Linked DNA regions of Homo sapiens. The protein of the gene in region 1 purifies or fractionates together with the protein of each later gene. This does not show direct contact. Each region holds a gene or a part of one and is shown on either strand. Other genes may lie near its edges.

Region 1 (5,073 bases):
CACCCTTGAAGAAATTTAGTCTGCTGAGAATACTAATGGGTAAGCAAGTATTTGCAATACCATGTGACTTAGGCTGTTATCAAGTAAGCATTGTTGCTGAAGATTACAGAGGGATGCTGAAGAAAGCTACATCAAGAAGCATTGGAGTTGGCTTTGATTAGAGAACTCTCATAAAGTCTGTTCCAAAAGCCTCAAAAGTCAAAGGGCATTATTAGTAAAGCAGGAACAAAGCTAGATGTGATTACAGATTGTTAGAGCCAGCATTAGAAGTTGCTGAAACAATGAACAAGGAGGGACAATTTTACCATAGACCTCATATAGACACATGCAGAAACTAAGTCCAGTTTTTAAAAGAACATTAAAAAGCGCAACTTTTACCATCCATTATAATTAAATTTCTCCAACAATGTCTTCATCATAAGAATCACTAACATGTATTAAGCACCTGTGTGGCAAACATTGTGCTGATGGATTCACAGGCTTAGTCGTTCCTCCTCACCACATCCCTGAGGTAGGTGCTATTTTACCTTCATTTTACAGATGAGAAACATAAGAGGTTCAGAGATTTAAGTGATTTACTCACTTAGCTAGTGAGAGAGAGATATGGGACTTGCTCTAGTCTTACTGACGCCACAGTCTTTGTTCTTATCCCCTGTGACTGTTAGAAATCACTTAGCTCCATGTAACAAAAAACGTGAAAAACACTAAAGTTTATTGTCCTCACATAAGAAGTCCAGAGGAGTTGTTGCCTTGAGGCTGTCATCAGGGCCGCAGGCTCCTTCTCTTGCTGGTCCCTGTCGTTAATGTGTGCCTCTGGCCTCAGATGAACTCACTAAATGGCTGCTCTGTCCCACGGCATCCTATCTTCATTCCAGGCAAAAAGAAAGGGAGGAGCAAAAGCTAAAAGCCTTTCAGAAGGGCTTACTTTTCTATTTAAGAAGGAGGCCCTCCTCAGAAATTCCCACCTGCATTTCATTGGCAACATCTATGCTGCTTGGCCACCCCTAGCAGCAAACAAGGCTATGAAGTAGAGACTTTTGTTTTCCAGCTTTGACAAGTGAAAAAAGGGGAAAGTGAGTTGGATGGGTGCTGAGGAAACCAATTTATACAGTACATGTACAAGTAGCCTACACAATCACTCTGCTCACTGGCACTACAGATAAAGCACATGTTGCTATCCTAACCTAGAGGGCTCATGAGATCTAGTCCTTTCTTTTTGACCTTATATCTCTGTTCTCTTCAGCCAAACTGGGGTTTTTCGCTGTTAACATGTTCCCTTTTAAGCCTCCACCCTGTCATCCAAGTTTCACGTTCTCCCCAACCCCATTCCCAGTGTAGTAAAAGGCTCCTGGCATTCTGCCACTAAATGTGCATTAGTGTTAGAATATTCTGAGCATGAAAAAATAAAAATCACAACTGTATCTCAAACAAAAAGGATTTTTTTTTTTATTTCTCTCCCTTAAAACAATCCAGGCCAAGTGACAGGAAGGCTCCAGAATTTTCAGTGACCTGGGTTCCCTCTATTTTGTTGCTCTGCTATCTTCCACACGCAGTTTCCAGCTCAGCCAATCTCGTCTACCCTGGCACCGCATATAGTAGGCATAAACAAAACAGAGAAGTGGAGAGACTGAAGTGAAGGAAATGATTTCCGCATCCTAAGTAAGCTCTAAGGTGCTTTTCCACTTTTCACCTTCCACTTGGAATTCATAGTTCTACCTGAATTCCACTAGATGGCAGCACATACATTTATAAAGTGTATGGATGGAGCCACTAAACTCTGAAAGCAGGGAAACTACAAATCCCAGCATGCATTATTAAGCGCTTGACTTGCTTCCAGACAAAGGTTGTCTCAAGTTTGTTGCTCAAACCGAGTTCTGGAGAACGCCATCAGCTCGCTGCTTAAAGTAAGATTTCCTAATACTTTTGAAATGAAACTTTAGAACGGAAAGAGGGGAGGTTTAATTTTTAGATGTTGTTTTTTTCTGCACGTTGCCTGTTTCAAAATTAATCTGAGCAGTTAGATCAGTGTAAAGATGGGTTTTTAAAGAGCCTGAAACTCTGTGGTATGTATGTTTTATAAAGTAGCCCAAGAAAAAAGGATTCTTACGGTATCCTAAGTGAAGAGTTTTCTTCCTGGCTCTTGAAAACAATGGCTTCCTGAATATGCTGTTTGTGTCTCTGCTAATCAAAAATCAACATTTTGATTCTAACTTTTGGACTAAGGAAGCCAACATGTATGGTTTTCACATTGGATATATTGAGAGGTGCCTTGTTTTACCATTTCAGGCCGTGTTTGCTCTCATTTTCTCAAAGAAATCTGTTTTAGTTTGAGATTACAGTTTATCAAATGTTAAGGCTTTGACCCCAAAATCTGGTCCCAGAAAGACAGGAAGGCCAGCTAAGAGGAGGTTTTCAGAGTGCATAGAAAGGCTGCTCTGTGCTTCGGCATTTGTTCTGGAAGTGCTTCTTCGGTTGGCAAAGATTCCTAGCAAAACCTTTGACTGGAGGCTTTACAGGGCCATACACCCAATATCACTAATGACAGTGTTGTAAAATAGCTTTTGTGCACCATGCTTAGGATTCAAGGAGGATAAAGTATATCTTTCTAAAGTTATACTTTAGAAACTGTCATTCCATGTTGAAATGATAAACATTCCATGTTTATCTTTTGTGTAAGAAGTAAAAAAGCAAAAATTCATTGCATCAAAGTAGGTCAGGCACTGTTAAAGCCAAGCTTCCCCATCGCCTAAAAAATGTGGACAAACTCAGAGGAAGTCAGTGATTATAAGCTGATCCCTGGAGCCAGTTCTTACATAATTGTGTTAGTCTGCTCCTCCAAGAAGCAGACTCCAAGATAGAATTAAATATGCATGGATTTTATTAGGGGAAATGCTGTTGTGAGAGAGAATGAGGAGAGAACTAGGTAAGGCTGTGAGAGCCATCAGACCTCGATGCAAGTCCACCCGCGAGGGAGGAAAAGAAGGAAACCAGGTTGAGTGGAAGCATCCCAGACAGCTGTGCAGTCTAAGAGAACTTCAGCAAGGTAATAAGGAGCTTCTCTAGCCAGTCATCCGTTGGGGAGGAGGTCTATGTCTCCCAGAAATGAGTCTGCCTTAGTAAGCATGCATGCTCAGGCACTGGCTTGTAACGGCCCCGAGAAGGTGGCCTCAGCACAAACCCAGAGAGGCAGCAGCAGCTGCGCCTCATTGTCCATTACTTCCTGGGGTCAGCGGTCTGCGAGGCACAGGCTCCTGGTGCCACAGTGGGGATTTAGAGAGGCCCGCAGGGCTTTGAGTACCATGAGACAATGCCATGAGATCTTCCCTTGGACCTGCAACAAGAAGGCCTAGGTTTGAATTCATAGCTGCAAAACACTGGGCAAATAACATTTCTTTGAAATTAGCCACGTTGGTGATCAGGTCCTACCTATCTCATCTCTGAAACACTTCTCCAATCCACCTATCTCTCCATCCCTGCTATTTTCTCCAGCCCTGCTATTTCACCAGCGCCCCCACTAGATAACCCTAGCAGCCTCCTAATGGCACCCCATGCTCCTGCCCAGGTATGTTCTCCACAGCAGTCCTTCCAAAATACGAATCTGATCATTTCACACCCTTTCCATAAATCCTTCAGTGGCTGTTGCCTATAGGAGTAACTTGCCCTTCACCATGTGGACCTTGGACCAAGTGTGGAGGTTTGAAATGGAAGAGCATATTGGGTATAAAAAAAAAAAAGTTTGGCTAAAGAGAGAACTGAAATAAGTTCAAAGAGAAAGGACTAGGTAATATAAGCCCTTTAGGCAAGGCTATCAACCTGTACAAAATCAGGCAGATAATGGAACAGAGTGATTGTGTAGGCTAGTTTGCATGTACTGTAAGTTGGTTCATCAACACCATCCAACTCACTTTCTCCTATTCTTCACTTTATCAAAGCTGGAAACAAAAGTCTCAACTTCCAACCTCTTTGCAGCTAGGAGTGGCCAAGTAGCATAGATCTGGTGAATGAACTGCAGGTGGGAATTTCTGAGAAGGTTTCCTTCTTAAATAGAAAGGTGAGACCTCTCTGAAAGCCTTTTGGCTTTTGCTCCTCCCTTTCTTTTTGCCTGAAATGTGGATATGATGCCTTGGACAAAGCAGCCACTTTGTGAGTTCGTATGAGGTCAGAGGCACACATTAATGACAGAGCCCAGCAAGACTTGGAGCCTGTGTCCTTGAAGACAGCCTCATTTGATGGTCATTTGGCTCTTCTCCACCCCCAGCCTCACTACTAGCTCTTTCTCTCACTTTGTGATCTATAATCCAAGCACTGGTGAAATATCTCATGCACATGAGCCCCGGTGTCAGTGTTTCTCAATCATTTAGAAATTACTGATTATGCCTGTTAATGTGTTACTACTGCATGCTTAAACTTTATAAGAGGATCGGCAGCATTGTGGGCTGGACTGTTCACATAGCAAGAGTCTGGAAGTCTAAGTTTAGTTCTGGCTTTCCCATTGACTGGCTCTATGACATTGGGCATGTTTCAGCAGTTTCCTCATCTGTAAAATGGGAGTATTGGATGTGATTTGATTTTTCCATCCTTTTTTTTTTCGATGAATATCTGAGACCAACTATGAAATCTTTTCAAGAGAAAAAAAATCATAAGCAATTGATAGTGCAAACCTCAACAAAAGTTTATGGAAGAGAAATCAAGAAGCAGCCCTGAGTAGTAAGGACACAAATAATGTCATAGCAATGTGTGCAGGGGTCATGGAGAGAGTGATGGTGGTAGTGAGGAAACTCAGCACCAGAGGCTGTCCTCTCCAGGTACTGAAGGAAGGATAAGGTAGGTTAAAGTGCAATATCTGGGCTGGGCACAGTGGCTCAGGCCTGTAATCTCAGCACTTTGGAAGGCTGAGGCAGGTGGATTGCCTGAGGTCAGGAGTTTGAGACCAGTCTGGCCAACATGGTGAAAGCCCGTCTCTACAAAAAATACAGAAATTGGCTGGGCGTGGTGGCAGGCACCTGTAATCCCAGCTACTCAGGAGGCTGCGGCAGGAGAATTGCTTGAACCTAAAAGGCGGAGGTTGCAGTG
Region 2 (3,500 bases), on another chromosome or scaffold:
AATAAATTTTTGAATTAGAAGGAAATAAGAATTGTGATACAGATACTCTAGTATAGCTTTTATCGGATCTCTGTTTTTTCAACCAACTCTCCATAGCAATGTTGAGTTTCTTTTATAAGGTTTATATTAGGCTGTTTCTTTGAAGGAATTTGAGATTCTTATTTTTTTAATTTTATTTTTTAGAGAGAGAGAGTCTTGCTGTATTGCCCAGGTTAGAGTGCTGTGGCTGATCATGGCATGATCATAGTGCACTACAGCCTTGAACTCCTTGGCTCAAGTAATCCTTCTGCCTCAGCCACCTAAGTAGCCTCCTGGGACTATAGATAAATGCCATCATGCCTGGTTCAATACTCTATTTAAAGTAGATTCCATATGGGTTTGATTTTTAAAAATCTGTCAATGAAAGAAGGCTTTAATATATAGTTTATTACAAACATCATAACTAGAGACTGAAATAATGTTGAAGCATAGAGAACTGTCCCACTTCTGAGATTTTGGAGAAAGCATTAAATACCAGGTAGTAGACTATAAAATGTATATATACTATCTTTAGGAATGTCAGGTGTGACAGAGGGGAACCTAGTCTGGTTAAAAGGTAAAGGAAGGAAGGAGGATTCTTTCTAGGGTCAAGAAAAAGTTCCATGTTCTAACAGAAGCAAAAGTAATAAGGGAAATTCCTTTAGTAAGAGAAAAGAAACCTTTTATTTTCTAATTAGAGAGGCTAAACATTTGGGTGAAGGAGTGTTGATTTTTTATATTTTTATTTAGTCTGAGGCTGTTGATGACTGGATGTTAGAGAATGGAAGTGAGGAAGGCAGAAAGACTTGCGGACATTTTGGAAAGTATGTATGTATGGTAGGTGGGGCCAGGGGATGGATAAAGGGTAGCCACGGTGGAGCAGGATAGGAGAGGCTCTCAAATGGGAACGTTTTTTATAAAGAAGAACTTGGTGCTAGAGGACAAACTTACAGTCGCTGCATCTGTCTAGGGTTATAGAAATGTTTTGCTTGAAGCTACAAGTAAAATTGCACATGAATGAAGGATGTGGTTTGTTGAATTTCACATACAATTATTGAGGTATTGTTCAATATTATTTCCAATATAGAGCACTTAAATAGAATCCCAAGTTTTGCTTCTATGTATGTTTTTAATCTTTTGGTGTCTCCAATTGAAAGTATGTGTTGCTTTTTTCCTTTTATCATTTCAGGAAGAACTTCAGATGTCACTTTTAAAATTGAACAATGAATATGAAGTAATTAAAAGTACAGCTACAAGAGACATAAGTTTGGATTCAGAATTACATGACTTAAGACTTAATTTGGAGGCAAAGGAACAAGAACTCAATCAGAGTATTAGTGAAAAGGAAACACTGATAGCTGAGATAGAAGAATTGGACAGACAGAATCAAGAAGCTACAAAGGTAACACTGTATTAAATACAGTAAGGCAGCACATTCTACTAAGTAAACTAAACACAGAAATGGTGGGTGTGATTTAATTAATATTTTAGTTCATAGAGATTGACAAACCTTTTTGGTAAAGTGCTAGATAGTAAATATCATTGGCCTTGTAGGCCATATTGTCTCAGTCTACTCAACTCTGTTGTTGTGATACCAACAAATGAGTGTGACCATGTTTCAACAAAATTTTATTTACAAAACAGGCAGCATCCCTGAGTTGGCCAATGGCTATAGTTCGTTGACTCTTACTCTAGTGTAGAGTTAAAAATAAACAACATGCCGGGCGCAGTGGCTCATGCCTGTCATCCTAGCACTTTGGGAGGCAGAGACGGGTGGATCACGAGGTCAGGAGTTCAAGACCAGCCTGGTCAAGATGGTGAAACCCCGTCTCTACTAAAAATACAAAAAATTAGCCGGCCGTGGTGGCAGGTGCCTGTAATCCCAGCTACTCGGGAGGCTGAGGCAGAGAATTGCTTGAACCCAGGAGGCAGAGGTTACAGTGAGCCGAGATCATGCCACTGCACTCCAGCCTGGGCAACAGAGCGACTCTGTCTCAAAAAAAAAAAAAATACTATTTACCATCTTTGGTTTTAAATTCTTATCCCTAAAATGCTTTAAGAAATGACAAGATGGGGCCAGGCACAGTGGCTCATGCCTGTAATCCCAACACTTTGGGAGGCTGAGGCAGGCAGATCACCCGAGGTTGGAAGTTTGAGACCAGCCTGACCAACATGGAGAAACCCCATCTCTACTAAAAATACAAAATTAGCCGGGTGTGGTGGCGCATGCCTGTAATCCCAGCTACTCGGGAGGTTGAGGCAGGAGAATTGCTTGAACCTGGGAGGTTCAAGAGGTGGAGGCGGAGGTTGCGGTGAGCCGAGATTGCGCCGAGCCGAGATTGTGCCATTGCACTCCAGCCTGGGCAACAAGAGCGAAACTCCGTCTCAAAAAACAAAAAAGACAAGATGGGTTTGCTGTAAAATAATAATAAGTAATTTTGTAGTGGGTGTTTTTGATAGAAAAACAATGTTTTTAAGAAGGATTAGAAATATTTGAGGATTATTTTCTATTATGTATGAGATTTTATAAAATTTTCTTTGAGTACTAAAATGAGAACATGTTGTAAAGTCACCATGCAAATTTTTCTTTCAGCACATGATTTTGATAAAAGATCAGCTATCAAAACAACAAAATGAAGGAGATAGCATCATCAGTAAACTGAAACAAGATCTAAATGATGAAAAAAAGAGAGTTCATCAACTTGAAGATGATAAAATGGACATTACTAAAGAGTTAGATGTACAGAAAGAAAAGCTAATTCAAAGTGAAGTGGCCCTAAATGATTTACATTTAACCAAGCAGAAACTTGAGGACAAAGTAGAAAATTTAGTAGATCAGCTAAATAAATCACAAGAAAGTAATGTAAGCATCCAGAAGGAGAATTTAGAACTTAAGGAGCATATTAGACAAAATGAGGAGGAGCTTTCTAGAATAAGGAATGAGTTAATGCAGTCTCTAAATCAAGACTCTAATAGTAATTTTAAGGATACCTTACTTAAAGAAAGAGAAGCTGAAGTTAGAAACTTAAAGCAAAATCTTTCAGAATTAGAACAGCTCAATGAAAATTTAAAGAAAGTTGCTTTTGATGTCAAAATGGAAAATGAAAAGTTAGTTTTAGCATGTGAAGATGTGAGGCATCAGTTAGAAGAATGTCTTGCTGGTAACAATCAGCTTTCTCTGGAAAAAAACACTATTGTGGAGACTCTAAAAATGGAAAAAGGAGAGATAGAGGCAGAATTGTGTTGGGCTAAAAAGAGGCTGTTGGAAGAAGCAAACAAGTATGAGAAAACCATTGAAGAACTGTCAAATGCACGTAATTTGAATACCTCTGCCTTACAGCTGGAACATGAGCATTTAATTAAACTCAATCAAAAGAAAGACATGGAAATAGCAGAACTCAAAAAGAATATTGAACAAATGGATACTGACCATAAAGAAACTAAGGACGTTTTGTCATCTAGTTTAGAAGAGCAGAAGCAGT
Region 3 (4,475 bases), on another chromosome or scaffold:
ATCCCAGCTACTTGGGAGGCTGAGGCAGGAGAATCACTTGATCCCAGGAGGCAGAGGTTGCGGTGAGCCAAGATCGCACCACTGCACTCCAGCCTGGGCAACAAGAGCAAAACTCCGTCTCAATCAACCAATCAATCAATCAATAATACAAAAATTAGCTGGGCGTGGTGGTGGGCACCTGTAATCCCAACTACTCGGGAGGCTGAGGCAGGATAATTGCTTGAACCTGGGAGGCGGAGGTTGCGGCTAGCCGAGATCGAATCACTGCACTCCAGCCTGGGTGACAGAGTGAGACTGTCTCGAAAAAGACTGCAGAGTGAGGCAGCTGGACGATAACAACTAGGGAAGTTTTCTAGATGCTTCTGATCTGAATGTGAGGAAGGAAGGAAATAGAGTAGTAGAAACAAAGGACATTTTGGAAAGGTACGGAGTCAGGGGAAGACATGCAAGGTGTGACCAGTGCACTGAGGGATAAGAGGACATACTTTATAGGGCACACTCTTGTAGAGGACTTTGAAAACTATGCCCAACAATTTAAACCTGATTCACAGGCAGTAGAAAACATGCCAATTCTAAGCCAGTGAATTACATGAACAAGTGGGTTCTAGTAAGATACTGAACACAGCGATCTTATTTAAATGGCATAAAGAGGCTGTGGCAAAGATGCCATCTACATTCAGTTTTACATTCATTGATGATATTGATGATTAATGGCCATAACTTGAAGCTAAGTCAATCTCCCATTTGAGGTGGGTTCCTCAGACTGTAACTTCAAGAGTAGAACAATCTCTTTTCTTCAGTGTTAGTACTAGGACTTGCCATTTTCTTAGAAATTTCTGAGAACAAATTGTAGAAATATTTAAATGTATATTAGTAATGAGGCTAATGTTTTACTTAATCCTGTTAATGAATACTGTGGGCTAAATTGGCAAAGTATATATTATATGAAACCTTTGAGAAACAGTGGATTCCAGTAATGAATACAGAACTGGAATGTCATTTCCACAAGGGGTTTAAAAACAGCTATAGGGCCAGGAGCCATGGCTCACGCCTGTAATCCCAGCACTTTGGGAGGCTGAGGTGGGTGGATCACTTGAGGTCAGGAGTTCGAGACCAGCCTAGCCGACACGGCGAAACCCCATCTCTACTAAAAATACAAAAATTAGCTGGGCATTGTGGCGCATGCCTGTAATCCCGGGTATTTGGGAGGCTGAGGCAGGAGAATCGCTTGAACCCAGGAGGCAGAGGTTGCAGTGAGCCAAGATTACGCCACTGCACTCCAGCCTGGGCAACAGAGCAAGACTCCGTCTCAAACAAAACAAAACAGGTATGGTATAATAAATATATTTGGTGTTGGTCTTTGTGGTTCCAGGCACAGAGTTCCAAAAACCTTAAGAATTTCCTCAGCAGGCTGGGCGCGGCGGCTCACACATATAATCCCAGCACTTTGGGAGGCCGAGGCAGGTAGATCACCTGAGGTCAGGAGTCTGAGACCAGCCTGGCCAATGTGGTGAAACCCTGTCTCTACTAAAAATATAAAAATTAGTTGTGTGTGGTGGCATGCACCCTTAATCCCAGCTACTAGGGAGGCTGAGGCAGGTGAATCACTTGAACCCGGAAGGCGGAGGTTGCAATGAGTCGAGATTGTGCCACTGTACTCCAACCTGGGAGATGAAGCAAGACTCTGTATCTTTTGTTATTCATGATGAACTCCCTCAGGACCACACTGAATTTATGTTAATGAGATGACCTGGGGTGGGGCCAACACTAGTAAGGGCAAACTGATTGGAACTTTCAGCTTCACCCACCAATGTCCTGAATAGAAATGCAGATTATGTTGTATGAAAACTATTTTCTTCTTCTCCTTTTAAAATTAATTTTCCCATAAGTCTGTGTCCTAGCTGTATAAAAACTCTTGAGGCTGGGAACGGTGACTTATGCATGTAATTCCAGCACTTTGGGAGGCCGAGGCAAGAGGATCACTTGAGCCAGGAGTTTGAGACCAGTCTGGGAAACAAAGTGAGACCCTGTCTCTACAAAAAATAAACAAAAATTAGCTGGGTATGGTGGCATGTGTCTGTAGTCCCAGCTACTTGGGAGGCTGAGGTGAGACGATTGCTTGAGCCTAGGAGTTTGAGCCTGCAGTGTGCTATGGGCACACCACTGTGCTCTAGTCGGGATGACAGAACAAGAGCTTGTCTCAAAACTAAAAAAAAACCCTTGATGAGCTTCCAGGTTGGTGAACACATCCGTGTGCTAGGAGAACACTGCACTGAGCTCCTCAGGGTCAAAGCTCCTGAGCGTGAGATCCTCTGAACCCCACTCTAATTACTTCTTCAGCTGGCTGTTAATCTGTATCCTTCATAACAAACACATAAATGTAAGTAAAGTGTTTCCCTGAGTTCTGTGAGCCATTCTAGGAAATTATTGAACTGGAGACAGGGCTCCCCTGATTTACAGCCTGTAGGGCAGAAACACGGAGGGCCAGATTCACAACTGGCATCTGAAGTGGGGGGCAGTCTTCTGGGACCGAACCCTTAACTTGTGGGATCTGATACCAACTCCAAGTAGACAGTGTCAGAATTGAATTGTAGGACACCCAGCTGTTGTTGAATTGGTCAGTGTTGGCAAAAACCCTGCACATTTGGTGTCAGAAGCGTTCTGCTTAAGTACACAAAACCAGTGTGTTTTCATCAGAACAGGAGACATCTTCATGTATGATAGCTTTCTCAACTCTACCATGGGGGTAATGACAACTCAGCCACTGACTGTTCTTCAGAGATCATGAGAATGGAAAAGTTGAACACATTTGTTCCTTAGAAGAAGAAGAAGGCACTAAACGTTAACACTAGCAAGTTTTAAGTCTAATTTTCCAAATGATAAAGATAATCAAATTAAAACAATCCATAAATGAACAATGTAGAAATCTGAATCTGACATAATCCATATTTTCCAATAACCATTATTGATAGTTTGATGCAGCAAGTTTTGAAAAAATCTTTACTTTTTTTTCTTGCTACATTGCCCTGGCTGGTCTCACACTCCTGGCCTCAAGCAATCCTGCTTTGGCCTCCCAAAGTGCTGGGATTACTGTCGTGAAGCAATGCGCCCAGCCAACCTTCACTTTTATCTTCTTTGCTATCATAAACTTTTACAACATACTTACTTGTTCGTTTGTAAAATTGGAAAGACTGTGTTTCCCACACCACAGCCAACCTGCAGACAGAAATGAACTATTAATCACAGAACTTTCCAGAGTTAATTCCCGAAAGCTAGAAAAGCTAGAAAAATAATAATCAACAAGAATCTGGCCTAACTGTATTAGGGAAGGTGTAGTGACCAGAGCTAAACAGTACCCATGACATTTGTTGATTTTGATGTTGACTTCAGGAACCCTTAAAAGACAAGAACATGGGTTTTTATTAGCAGAAACGAGGTGGTCTAGAAAAAAGGGCAAGGATTGCTTTTATCTTTTGAGTTCTAGCAAATTGTCCTGTAGATGAAGTATTTTCTTACTAAGCTTATATTATTATTGTGAAAATATTTGTAATAGACTGTGCTGAAAAATGTATGAAAAGGGGACCTTGACAACCTTGTCCTAAACACAGTGCTGCGTGGTAATGAAGACAGCAACTATTTATTAAGGGCTTAACAATGTGCCAGATACTGTTCTTAGCCCTTTTACATACATTATCTCCATCCTCATAAGTATAAGGTGCAGAGGCAGCAGTCTCACTGCTCAGAGAGGGTAAGGAAATTGTCTAAGATCACACCATAGGACTCAATCCCAAGGCTAACCAGTTCCAGAACCAGCTTCCAGTAACGTGCGCAGTCCCCATTTATGAATTTACATTATACCAATCTAGACATTTTTCCAGGTCTAGACTCTGCAACACCATCCAAATGCAGAGGAAGAGAATTATCCCAGGCCTAAGAAACAGGCACCATCCTAACTACCCTCTCCATTCCTGTAACTGTATTAGAAGAGAAGCAACAATTTCTTCTGATCTGGGACATTTTTCCAGAGTTATAGCATGATCATGTTGAGCTCTTTCACCTGTATGATACAGTGTCATGTGACAGGTACAGCATGATGCTATTAATACAATTTTTGGAAGTGACATGCTATTCCCGTGTGATCTTTGTCTGTGATGACCACCAGATATCTGGTCTGCACTGAGGGCATTTTATCAGTTCAAAAATGGAGGTGATTCCAGGCTAATATAAGGGTCAAGTCTAGTCAGCATCATCCAATAGAAGTTACTTTTATTGTCAGCCTCTCTATGCTACCTCATGTGCACAAATATAATAGCTTCACATATCCCACTACCAAGACAATAAAAGGTTACCTCCAGTATTCGGTAGGTGGCTGAGGATCCAGGAAACTCATCAGCACAAATTTCCAGGTCACTAATTTTCTGAGTTACATTCTCCTCCACAGGAGGTGTCTGTGTTTTATGTTCAAGGCTCTTCGA
Region 4 (4,149 bases), on another chromosome or scaffold:
AACCCTGTCTCTACTAAAAATACAAAAATTAGCTGGGCCTGGTGGCACGCACCTGTAATCCCTGCTACTTGGGAGGCTGAGGCAGGAGAATCGCTTGAACCCAGGAGGCAGAGGTTGCAGTGAGCCAGGATCACAGCACTGCACTCCAGCCTGGGTGACAGAGCAAGACTCCATCTCAAAAAAAGAAAAAAGAAATTGAAATGTCCAGCTTACTTTCTCAGTGGGGGGACCTTATTTAAGAAATCTGTTTGTCTCAAGTGCTGGGAGGAGAATCAGCTTGGGCCCCCATACCTAGTCCTCACATGAGTACAGCACTCAGTCATGTCAACTCCTACTTGTTGAGCCAGCATCACCCAGACGGGTCTTCAAACATACAACTGCTTCTCTTAAAAAGCATAGGGATAAGCTATTAAAGAGGCTGAGGCGGGAGAGTCGCTTGAACCTGGGAGGCTGAGGTTGCAGTGAGCTGAGATCGCACCACTGCATTCCAGCCTGGGTGACAAAAGTGAAACTTTGTCTTAAAAAAAAAAAAGAAAAACGGGGATAAAAATTGGTCTTATCAATATCTAATATATTTGTCAGATACTCTCCCTAGGGGCTTAGGATTTAGCAGTACATCAAACAGACAAAAAAAAAAAAAACCCTCTGCTTTTGTAGAACCTTTCTTCTGGCAGGGGGTGGCTTGGGAGTAGATAAGGGAAAAATAAATCTATGAGAAATATTTTTTTTTCCTTTTTTTTTTTTTTTTTTTTTTTTTTTTTTTTTTTTTTTTTTTTTTGAGTCAGAGACATCCGCCACCACCCCCAGCTAATATGGCAGTTTGCTTTGTTGGTCTTTCCAGCTTTATTTTTTAGCTTTTTTTTTTTTTTTAATCATTTGATAGGAATGCTGCATCTATTTAAAATTTGAAAATGGGAACGCTGTAATTCTGAGGAGACGAGATAAAGGCAATATTTTGAATTGCATAGGGTAGGGAGGTTAAAGGAAATTTATATGACCTGATTTTATAAAATACCACATTTACAAATACCACCTTTTGAAACGGAGTCTCAAGAAAAGGGGCAAAAAATCTGTATGTTTATTATAGACGATTTAGACAATGAAGGTAAGCGAAAAGAAAAAATATTATATCATTATACCTTCTCTTAGAACTAACTGTATCATTGATTTTTTTTGGCAGGGGGAGGGGAGACAGAGTCTCTGTCACCCAGGCTGGTGTGCAGTGGCATGCTCTCAGCTCACTGCAACCTCTGCCTCCCAGTTCAAGCACTTCTCATGCCTCAGTCTCCTGAGTAGCTGGGGCGACAGGCATGTGCACCACCATGCCAGGCTAATTTTTGTATTTTTTATATTTTTAGTAGAGGTGGGTTTTTGTCATGTTGGCCAGGCTGGTCTCAAACTCCTGGCCTCAAGTGATCCACCCACCTTGGCCTCCCAAAGTGCTGAGATTACAGGTGTGACCCACCATGCCTCGCCCCATTGATGTTTTATTTTATTTATTTATTTATTTTTATTTATTTATTTATTTATTTTTGAGATGGAGTCTTGCTCTGTCGCCCAGGCTGAAGTGCAGAGTAGCTGGGACTACAGGCGCCCACCACCACGCCAGGCTTATGTTTTGTATTTTTAGTAGAGACGGGGTTTCACCGTGTTAGCTAGGATGGTCTCGATCACCTGACCTCGTGATCCTCCCGCCTCGGCCTCCCAAAGTGATTACAGGCATGAGCCATCGTGCCCAGCCGATATTTTTAAAAATCTGTTTGCTTTTTTTCATATTTAATTATGGCTATTTATTTATTTGAGACAGAGTCTCACTGTGTTGCCCAGGCTGCAGTGCAATGGTGCAATCTTGGCTCACTGCAAACTCTGACTCCCGGGTTGAAGCGATTCTCCTGCCTCAGCCTCCCAAGCAGCTGGGACTACAGTCGCCCACCGCCGCCGCCACCGCCCCCGGCTAATATGGCAGTTTGCTTTGTTGCTCTTTCCAGCTTTATTTTTTAGCTTTTTTTTTTTTTTTTTAAATCACTTGGGAGGAACACTGCATCTATTTAAAATTTGAAAACGGGAACACTGTAATTCTGAGACGCGATAAAGGCAATATTTTGAATTACATAGGATAGGGAGGTTAAAGGAAGTTTATATGACATAATTTTATAAAATACCGCATTTACAAAGCTTTATAGATTTTATTTATTTATTTATTTATTTATTTATTTTTTTGAGACGGAGTCTCCCTCTGTAGCCCAGGCTGGAGTGCAGTGGTGATCTCGGCTCACTGCAAGATCCGCCTCCCAGGTTCATGCCATTCTCCTATCTCAACCTTCCGAGTAGCTGAGACTACAGGCGCCCGCCACCACGTCTGGCTAATTTTTTGTATTTTTAGTAGAGACAGGGTTTCACCATGTTAGCCAGGATGGTCTCGATCTCCTGACCTTGTGATCCGCCCGCCTCAGCCTCCCAAAGTGCTGGGATTACAGGCTTGAGCCACCGCGCCTGGCCTGCTTTATAGATTTTTAACCAAGCCTTTTTGTTTATAATTGGTAAGAAATTTATGGCAAGAACTTAGAATGGTATTTACTTTCTTTTTTAAAGTGTGCATATTCTTTAGAACTGGGAAAAGGATCCTGACCTCCATTGTAGAGGACGCTTATCCTTATTTTATGTTTTCTATTCCTTTTGACCTTTAACCTTTGTTACAGGCAAAGAAGAGTAAGACCAAAATGCCATCTTTGGTAAAAAAGTGGCAGAGTATCCAGCGTGAGTTAGATGAAGAGGACAATTCTAGTTCCAGTGAAGAGGATCGGGAATCAACTGCACAGAAGCGAATTGAAGAGTGGAAACAGCAGCAGCTGGTTAGGTAAAAGAAAAGGAAACACAGATGAGATGGGGTTTTGGAGTAGGTTGAGACCTACTATGAGATGGAGTAGGTTGTGGTTGTTATAGATGCATTAGAATAGACATATTCTTAAAATCACAGCTTGTAAATTTATCTAAAGGTTTCTAATTTATAAACATGTTTAATTCCTTATAGAAATTATGGGCTAGCCTTTTTTCAAAATCAGAAACAACAGAGTTGTAATACTTTGTCCAGTTGATTGTTGGTCTTAGGCAAAGGCCTGTCTTAACTCTCAGTACATCATTTACTATCTAGATCCAGTGGACCCTTTTATACACACACACACACACACACACACACACACACACACACATACACACATAACATATTAACTTATTTTACAAATAATTTATAGAATTAGACCCTTTTATACACACACACATTATTGTACAAATGATTTACAGAATTAGAATAAAGTTTTTCCCCTGTCCCTATATTTCAGTCAAGCAGGGTAGAATACAGAGCTGCCTTCTCAATTGCACTTATTCTAGAACAGAAGTTAATGAGAGAGCACACCACACTAGGAACTAAATGAACCTCTTCTAGGTAAGAAAATCCTTCACTACCTTGCTTGACTAGAATAAAAGGATAGGGAGAACTGGCTTCAAGTAATTGCACCTCAGCCTCCCAGAGTGTTGGGAATACAAGTGTGAGCCACCACACTCAGGTCAGAAATATTTTTTATGATGAAAGCACATGTTGGGCTGGGCACGGTGGCTCACGCCTGTAATCCCAGCACTTTGGGAGGCCAAGGCGGGTGGATCACGAGGTCAGGAATTCGAGACCAGCCTGGCCAACATGGTGAAACCCCATCTCTACTAAAAATACAAAATTAGCTGGGCCTGGTGGCGAATGCCTGTAATCGCTGAGGCAGAAGAATTGTTTGAACCCGCGAGGCGGAGGTTGCAGTGAGCCAAGACCGTGCTATTGCACTCCAGCCTGGACGACAGAGCAAGACTCCATCTCAAAAAAAAAAAAAAAAAACATGTTGGGTGGGCACTGTGGCTCACACCTGTAGTCCTAGATGCTTGGGAGGCTGAGGCAAGAAGATGGCTTTCTCAAAAATTCTAGAAATTTTAAAGACTTTAGACACAGCAAGTACAATTTTTTATTTCATATTTTCCTTGTTTTGAAGGTATACATTCTGAAATGGGCAGCATTCTTTGACTGCAACTCACTGTTCATCAATTGTCAGTGTATAACCTAGAATATAGCTGTCTATTACTGATGCCAGATTTCAAATTAATCTCTGA

The links.
Region 2: the proteins of BDH2 (region 1) and TRIP11 purify together in Homo sapiens (affinity purification with mass spectrometry; one large-scale study listed by BioGRID and IntAct). This does not show direct contact.
Region 3: the proteins of BDH2 (region 1) and METTL2B purify together in Homo sapiens (affinity purification with mass spectrometry; one large-scale study listed by BioGRID and IntAct). This does not show direct contact.
Region 4: the proteins of BDH2 (region 1) and FNBP4 purify together in Homo sapiens (affinity purification with mass spectrometry; one large-scale study listed by BioGRID and IntAct). This does not show direct contact.

The regions. Positions count from the first base shown.
Region 1 is NC_000004.12:103,096,614-103,101,686, reverse strand, and holds the start of BDH2 (dehydrogenase/reductase SDR family member 6), read left to right. Parts: upstream 1-1,852; 5' UTR 1,853-1,904; intron 1,905-2,884; exon of another isoform or gene 2,885-3,043; intron 3,044-3,932; exon of another isoform or gene 3,933-4,051; intron 4,052-5,073. UniProt on the Homo sapiens protein: NAD(H)-dependent dehydrogenase/reductase with a preference for cyclic substrates. Catalyzes stereoselective conversion of 4-oxo-L-proline to cis-4-hydroxy-L-proline, likely a detoxification mechanism for ketoprolines.
Region 2 is NC_000014.9:92,005,560-92,009,059, reverse strand, and holds part of TRIP11 (thyroid receptor-interacting protein 11), read left to right. Parts: intron 1-1,207; coding exon 1,208-1,420; intron 1,421-2,611; coding exon 2,612-3,500.
Region 3 is NC_000007.14:128,479,388-128,483,862, reverse strand, and holds part of METTL2B (tRNA N(3)-cytidine methyltransferase METTL2B), read right to left. Parts: coding exon 4,350-4,475; intron 3,217-4,349; coding exon 3,167-3,216; intron 1-3,166. UniProt on the Homo sapiens protein: S-adenosyl-L-methionine-dependent methyltransferase that mediates N(3)-methylcytidine modification of residue 32 of the tRNA anticodon loop of tRNA(Thr)(UGU) and tRNA(Arg)(CCU).
Region 4 is NC_000011.10:47,718,637-47,722,785, reverse strand, and holds part of FNBP4 (formin-binding protein 4), read left to right. Parts: intron 1-2,699; coding exon 2,700-2,857; intron 2,858-4,149.